Linked DNA regions of Homo sapiens. The protein of the gene in region 2 purifies or fractionates together with the protein of the main gene of each other region. This does not show direct contact. Each region holds a gene or a part of one and is shown on either strand. Other genes may lie near its edges.

What was found.
Region 1: the proteins of RASGRF2 (region 2) and RSL24D1 purify together in Homo sapiens (affinity purification with mass spectrometry; one large-scale study listed by BioGRID and IntAct). This does not show direct contact.

The regions. Positions count from the first base shown.
Region 1 is NC_000015.10:55,186,479-55,190,563, forward strand, and holds part of RSL24D1 (probable ribosome biogenesis protein RLP24), read right to left. Parts: intron 1-4,085. UniProt on the Homo sapiens protein: Involved in the biogenesis of the 60S ribosomal subunit. Ensures the docking of GTPBP4/NOG1 to pre-60S particles.
Region 2 is NC_000005.10:81,221,912-81,225,996, forward strand, and holds part of RASGRF2 (ras-specific guanine nucleotide-releasing factor 2), read left to right. Parts: intron 1-3,766; coding exon 3,767-3,859; 3' UTR 3,860-4,085.

The DNA.
Region 1 (4,085 bases), on a different chromosome or scaffold from region 2:
ATCAAATCTCTGGTGCTCTTGCCAAATGTGCATTATCCAAACCTAATCTGAAGGAAACACCAAACAATCCAGTTAAGAAATTTTATACCAAACGCCTGGCCCATATTGTTCTAAACTGTCAATATCATGAAATATAAGGACAAACTCAGGAAATGTTCCAGATTACAAGAGATTAAAGAGACATGACATGTACTATTCTTACAAATTTTGCTATAAAGGATATTACTGGGACAATTGGAGAAATATGAATAGGACTAAGATTAGGTAATAATAGTCTATCAATGTTAATTTCTTGATTTTAATAATTGCAGTGTGGTTATGTGAGAATGCTCTTATTTCTGGAAATACATATTAAACTAGGGACCAAGAAGTATTTTGCATGCTTAAACAGTTCAGAAAAATATACACTAAAGGGAGAAAGGGAGAAAGAAGAGAGACAAAGAGAAAAAATTAATTTAACAAAATGTTAACATTCAGGGAGTCTGGATGAAGGATATCAGAGAACTCTACTCGTGCAACTTTTCTGTAATCTGAAATTAGGTCAAAATAAAAACTTTTAAAATGTAGCCTGGGACCAGTAACAGTGGCATCATTTGGGAGCTTGTTAGAAATGAAGGATTTCAGGCCCCACACAAACCTACTATATCTGAATCTACATTTTAACAAAAACCACCAGGACAATCTTTGAGACCTCTAGTATTAAAGCAATGTTTGTATAAATAACTCTAAGAAAATGTCAACTATAAATCTGCATATGCTGTAGCTCAGAATTAATAATATGCTGGATATATAACTTTTTTTCTTTGTCTTTCAGCAAAAATAAGTACAAGTTCTAGTACTCAAAAGCATTTCCACACTTTAAACTTATTTAGAAGGGAAATAAACACAAGTGGCAGGAAAATCCCTTCCAAAGAATAATATGCTGTATTTCCAAATATTCCAGAATACTGAAATATTTTGAACCTAAGAAGCATCTAACTGTACAATTCACAACTGCAAAGATATGGAACCAACCTAAGTGCCCATCGACCAACAAGTGGGTAAAGAAAATGTGGTATTTATACATGATGGAATAGTTCTCACCCAAAAAAAGGAATGAAATAATGTCTTTTACAGCAACTTGGATGGAACTGGAGGCCACTATTCTAAATGAAGTAACCCAGGAATAGAAAAGCTAACACTGTATGTTCTCACTTGTAAGCAGGGGCTAAGCTATGGGCACGCAAAGGCATACAGAGTGGTATAATGGACTATGGGACTCAGAAGGGGGAGTGGGGTGGGGTAAGGGGTAAAAACTATAGATTGGGTACAATGTACACTACTCAGGTGATGGATGCACTAAAATCTCAGATTCTGACAATCTACAATTAATCCATGTAACCAAAAAAACCACTTGTACCCCAAAAGCTATTAAGATTAAAAAAAAGTTCAACAAAAATATGTAAAAAGTTAAAATAAAAAATAAAAAAAAATCTGACAGATATTAACAATTCACCTGCAACACAGACAGCCATGAGGGACAAAGTGCAAACTATTTTTCCCGGTATTTTTGAAATTCTAACATACTACTGTTTCTACAGACATCAGTACCTTAACAAAGGTTGTTTAATCCATATCCTCACACAATTTGATAATGTAAGCAATGAATATACAACTCTTGTCAATAGATTAGTTTATAGACCAAATGATACTGAAATACGAGGGGTGTGGAGAATCAATGAATCTCTTAGAAGAATAATATATTGTTCTGGAACACTACTGAAAACAACTTTTCTTAATTGTATAAAATATCATGAAACAATCTTAAATTCCAAAGACTCTCATACTATTTACCTAGCACTCATACTGTACACTTAGCAGATCTTCTCAGAAAAATCTATTTTTAGGATCCCAGTAAAAAGGAAAGCAGAATCAGTGCAGGAAAAAAGAAATCAATAGAGCACTGCTTCTTACAGAATTTACAGATGTATAAATGTGGGGGGCAAGAGAATGAGACTCTGTAATAAAACCTAACAGAAACAATAAAATAGGAGTACTCAGTAAGTGCACCTAGAGGGCAGAGACCGTGTGTGACGTGTTCATCTTTGTATGCCACAGGCAGTGCTTAATAAATGTGCACTGAATTAAAATAAATTAAGAACTGTAGAGAACACTACCATTACAGTATGTGAAGTCATACAGAACACAGCAGTATTTCTCTCGAGCAATGTAAATAACATGACACCAGCATGGAGGACCATGGAACTGATTATTCACATATCGCTAAAATTGTATATGCAACTCTTTTCAACAACAACCTAAATACCCGCTAAGTAAAAGTAGTTACAAAATATGTAAAAATGATCTGGAGCTGCTGTCTTCAAGTAATAATAACAACAACAAAGGTCAAAATGAAATAAAACTGAATGAAGTCCAGAAATGCCTCAGGACTGGCCAAGTGCGGAGGCTCACGCCTGTAATCCCAGCACTTTGGGAGGCCAAGGCAGGCAGATTGCCTGAGCTCAGAAGTTCACCACCAGCCTGGGCAACATGGTGAAACCCCGTCTCTACTAAAATACAAAAAAATTAGCCGGGCGTGGCGGCGTGTGCCTGTAGTCCCAGCTACTCGGGAGGCTGAGGCAGGAAAATTGCTTGAACCCGGGAGGCGGAGATTGCAGTGAGCCGAGATCCCACCACTACACTCCAGCCCGGGTGACAGAGCAAGACTCCCATCTCAAAAAAAAAAAAAAAAAAAAGAAATGCTTCAGGACTTTCCAATAATGTCCTTGATAAGAGTGCCTTTTGAAATCAATTTAAGAATCCTATAGTTAATCTCTTTAGAAATCCTTGAGTTTGAATAAGTGTTATTTCCTTACCAAATAAACCCAATAAAAATCAACTGCTTTTCAGAAATTAACTCCTCCTCTAATTATAAAGCAGAAGGAAAAGACCTTATTTTTTAAAAAGGGGTTGGGGGAGACCCAAAGGGTACAATAATTAGGGCTAAGTACAGAAAAGGCAATTCCAAATCTAAACTCCAGTTTCTCCACATGGTCCTAGGTAAACAAAGCTTTAGAACAAGCTTGACCAACCCACGGCCCAATATAAATTCGTAAACTTTCTTAAAACATAAAGAGATTTTTTTTGCAATTTTTTTTTCCCTTAGCTCATCAGCTATCATTAGTGTTAGTGTATTTTCTGTGTGCCCCAAGACAATTCTTCTTCCAATGTGGCCCAGGGAAGCCAAAGATTGGATGCCCCTGGTTCAGAAGGTATAAATACTACCACAAAGGTCCACAAATTTTCAGTTCTTCCCCTGAAGTCTCGTGACTGACTGGAGGACACAAAGGGATGCCCTGCCTATGATCCATTAGCAGAGTAATAAAGTTTGTGGAATTCTAAGCCTTACAGACTCTGGTTAACAAACCACATCACCCCCACACCCAATACTAGAAATAGCTACAGGCTGCATAAAGGTAGCCATGGGAAGAAAAGAAGGCCGGGCCGGTGCCAGGCATGGTGGCTCACGCCTGTAATCCCAGCACTTTGGGAGGCCAAGGTGGGAGGATCACTTGAGGTCAGGAGTTCAAGGCCACCCTGGCCAACATGGCAAAACCCCATCTCTACTAAAAATACAAAAATTAGCCAGGTGTAGTGGCATGTGCCTGTAATCCCAGCTACCTGGGAGGCTGAGGCAGGAGAATTGCTTGAACCTGGGAGGCAGTGATTGCAGTGAGCCGAGATCGTGCCACTGCACTCCAGCCGGTGGGACAGAGCAAGACTTTCCAACTCAAAAAAAAAAAAAAAAAAAAAAAAGGCAAGGCCAAGGGTCCCAAACATACACAAATGTGGTAGAATCTACAAGCTAGCTCAAGGGATTAACTTTTTCTACATATGAGACTTTTTTCATTAAACTTTCTGCCTATTTCAGGGAAAAAAAACAAAACAAAACAAAACAAAAAAAACAAGAACTAGATATTATTGCTTTTAATTTCAGAAGATTATAACTTCATTTTTTACCTAAGTCAAACACTTAGAAATTCTCTCAGAACATTTGTAATGATGACCTTAAGCACTACACTTTTTAATTTTAAAGAAGCACTGAA
Region 2 (4,085 bases):
GTTTGCAGTGAGCCAAGATTGTGCCATTGCACTCCAGCCTATGCACTCCAGCCTGGGCAACAGAGCAACACGCTGACTCTGGAGGGGGAGAAAAAAGATGCTCTAGACTCATCTTTTATATTTTGCCCCCGTCCTAGTTTCAGATATTTCTGCCAAAAGCTCTAGTTCCTTTTTTTGGAGAATGGTTTCAGCAACCAAGATATGGGCTTTAGATATGCTTGCGTTATGGAGGTATCAGCTGACAGAGCATAGGAATCTATGTGTGTATAGATTTTATACACATCTATTTATAAATATATCTCTATGTAACCATCAGTATTTGTATTAAGCTAAATATACTGATGCCCCCAACTCTATTCTATTACCATGTGAATCATTCCAGCCCTCTCCCCACATTTGCTTATCTGTAAATTCCCTCTCCAACAGTGAGAGACACACTTTCTTTTAATAGCCCCTAGGTTTTGCCCTATTTCTGTCTGCCACAAGGCCTTTACCTATGTTCTTCCTTCTGTCTGGAGTGCCCTTTCTTCCTCATTGCACAGTTTACTTGTACACAGCTTAAGTATCACTTAGGAAGACTTTCCTAACTTTCCCAATCCCCACTCCACTCTTAAGGTTGTATTGCACCATGTAAGTCTCCTTTCTAGCACTTACTGCTGGAGTCACCATTTTACATTTATTTGTGTGATTATGTGCACATGCATGATATCCATGAAGTTCAGAGCTGGACCTACTGTGTTTATTGTCATAGCCCCAGCATCTTGCACAGTGCCTGGACCATAGTAGATAATAAATGTTTCTTGAATTAGTTAATTCAAGTCAGGAAAAAGACAAGGTTGTGACCATCACTGCTACTATTCAGATTTGAACAGGAAAAAATTCACCACGGCAATGAAGCAATAAAAAGCAAAAGGTATAAAAATTGGAAAGGTAAAGATTAAATACTATAATTCACAGACGATTTGATTTAGAAAATCCAAGAGAAAAATCTAAGAAAAACTGATAAATTACTAAAGGAGTATAGCAACTTGACATGCAAAAGCCAATTTTCAACACATTGGCAATAAGCAATTCAAATGTAATATAAAAAACCTCAATCAAAATAGCAACAAAATCTGTAATGACTAGGATTAAGTGGAACAGGAAATATGTAAGACCTTTATGTACTGAAGTACGTAAGGAGAAAGTTGTATCATATTCATGGATCAAAACACTTACTATTGTAAAGAGGTCCATTGTCCTCAAATTAATCTATAAATTCATTGAAATCCTGGTCAAAATCCCAACAGGTTTTTCATGGAACTTGACAAACTTATCTTGAAACTCTTAGGGAGGCATAGATAGGCAAAAAACAGACAAGAACTTTTTGGTAAATAAGAATAGTAAAGGAGAGTGTTCCCTACCAGTTATGGCCACATCCTAAAGTGAGAGTAAATAAGGCAGGACTCAGCCGGGCGCGGTGGCTCACGCCTGTAATCCCAGCACTTTGGGAGGCCGAGGCGGGCGGATCACAAGGTCAGGAGATCAAGACCATCCTGGCGAACACGGTGAAACCCTGTCTCTACTAAAAATACAAAAAATTAGCCGGGCGTGGTGGCTGGCGCCTATAGACCCAGCTACTTGGGAGGCTGAGACAGGAGGATGGCGTGAACCCGGGAGGCGGAGCTTGCAGTGAGCCAAGATTGCGCCACTGCACTCCAGCCTGGGCGACAGAGCGAGACTCCGTCTCAGAAAAAAAAAAAAAATTCAGGACTCTACTGGCACAGCAGTGCAAATCCAGTAGGGCAGAAGAAAGTCCATGTGTGTGTTTAGTCTACCTGAAAATCTAATACGAGATAAAGAAGGCACTCAAAGAAAGTGCCAGAAAGAAACTGACCATTCAATAAATAGAACAGGAATTTTGGCTCTCCATCTTACCATTCACAAAAATAAATTCCAGATGAGTTCATTACCTAAGTTTAAAAAGTATTTATATTATTTGAATAAAATAAAGGATAAAATATTCATGACCTTTGGATTTGAAAGACCTTCTTAAGCACAGAATGCAAAAGCTGTGAAAGCCAAGCTTGATAAAGTTAATGAAAATTAAGGACTTCTATATGACAGAGGACCATTATTTAAAAATCAAAATATAAGCAGTAGACAATGAGACAACATTTGCAACATATACAACAAAGAAACAGAATAAAAGTGTTTCCATAATCTATAAGAAAAGCATAAACAATTCAACTGGTAAACCTGTGAATAGTTAATTCATAGAAGAAAAAAAATGACCAATAAATATTTTTTAAATGCTCAACTTCACTAGTAAAAAGAGAAAATGTAAATTAGAGTGGGACATCGTTTTCACTTATCGGATTGACAAAAATTTAAAAGATTGATAATATCAAACATTGCTTAGGGTATAGGAAAACAGGTACTGTCATGTACTGTAGGTGCGGAAGCTTTGCAGGTCATTTTCCATCATCATTTAAAATTAAAAATTGGTATATTGAATTACTGGAACTCTTACCATTGTTGGTGAGAATAAAATCGAACAATCACTTTGCAAAACTGTGCCATTTAGAAGTTTCTTAAAATGTTAAATGAGCACTTATCTTAGGACCTAGCAATTTCTCTCTTAGGTGTTTATCCAAAGGGAAAATGAAAGCATGCTCATTAAAAGCCTTGTATAAAATGTTCATAACATTTCTAAATAATAGCCCCTATTTGGGAAGAGCTCAAGTGTCCATCAACAGATGAATGGATAAACAAATTATGGTATATCTCTACAATGGACTACTACTCAGCCATGAGAGGGAGCAGACTACTGGTACAGGCCACAGCAAGGCTGAATCTCAAAACACTATGCTGAGTGAAAGAAACCACACATGAAGGAGTACACACTGTATGATCCCATCGATATGAGGTTCCAAAATAGACAGAACTAATATGTGGTGATAGAAACCAGGGCAGTGCTTGATTCCAAGAGCAGATTGACCGAGTAGGTGCATGAAGGAACTTTTGGGGATGCTGAAATTGTTATCATGAAATGTATGTAAGTTACATGGTGTATACATGTCAAAACAGATCAAACTATCTATTTCACTTTTGTGTGTTATATTTCAATAAAACTAAAGAAATATTTTCATGAAAATCCCCCATGCCCCAACATATTCATTTCTAGTGTCAATTCCTTTCCTTTCACTTCTGATATCTACCCTAGCCTAGCAGAGTATTCACGCATGCACTCCAGGAAGCATGCTAACAAGGAATTCACTGAAACTTTGTGTAACAGTGAAGTATTGACAGCAACTCAACATCTATCAATATGAGATTATTAAATAAGCTCCAATATATTGCACTATTAATACTGTATAGCAGTTAGAGCTCTATCTACTGTCACAGGGAGCTCTCTCCAACCTATCATTAAGAGATGAAAGCAGAATAAAATGTGCACCATGGTGCCAATTTTAGGGGGAAAAATGATTTCTGTAAGTACATGTAATCTCTATAAAGACATAGAAAAACAACTGGGAGAAAACAAACCAATTAGTAACAGTAGTTCCTCTTGAGGGAGGTACCTGGGATTGGGGGTTGAGAGAGGACTAGAGATGTTCACCTTTTTTTTTTTTTTTTTAACAATGGAAACATATTTATGATTTTTTGGTCAAATAAGATTTTTAGTTGTTTAAGAGAAAATGTTGAATTGTGTTAGATTCCGTCAGAAAATGTACGCACTGGTGTCTGAAAGAGGTAAAAGCTGGGACTTCCCCTTTTTTTTCAGGTCGCACAGTACTTGCTTGACAAAGACCTTATCATAGATGAAGATACGCTATATGAGCTGTCACTAAAAATTGAACCTCGACTCCCTGCTTGAAGATCTGGCCTTGCCCCTGAGTCCACGGGATGTTCATGGAAAGCAGGACAGACAGAATTGTGTATGCCTTGCCTATCACGGTACAGCACGAAGCCAGGCTCCTTTCTCCACCAAAGAAGATGGAACCAGACTGGAATTCTGTCTCCAGAGAGAAACCCAGCTGTTTGGGTCAAAGACAGATGCTTCAGACTTGGGTGGGAAGGTGAAAGATGGCTATTTAGAAAGC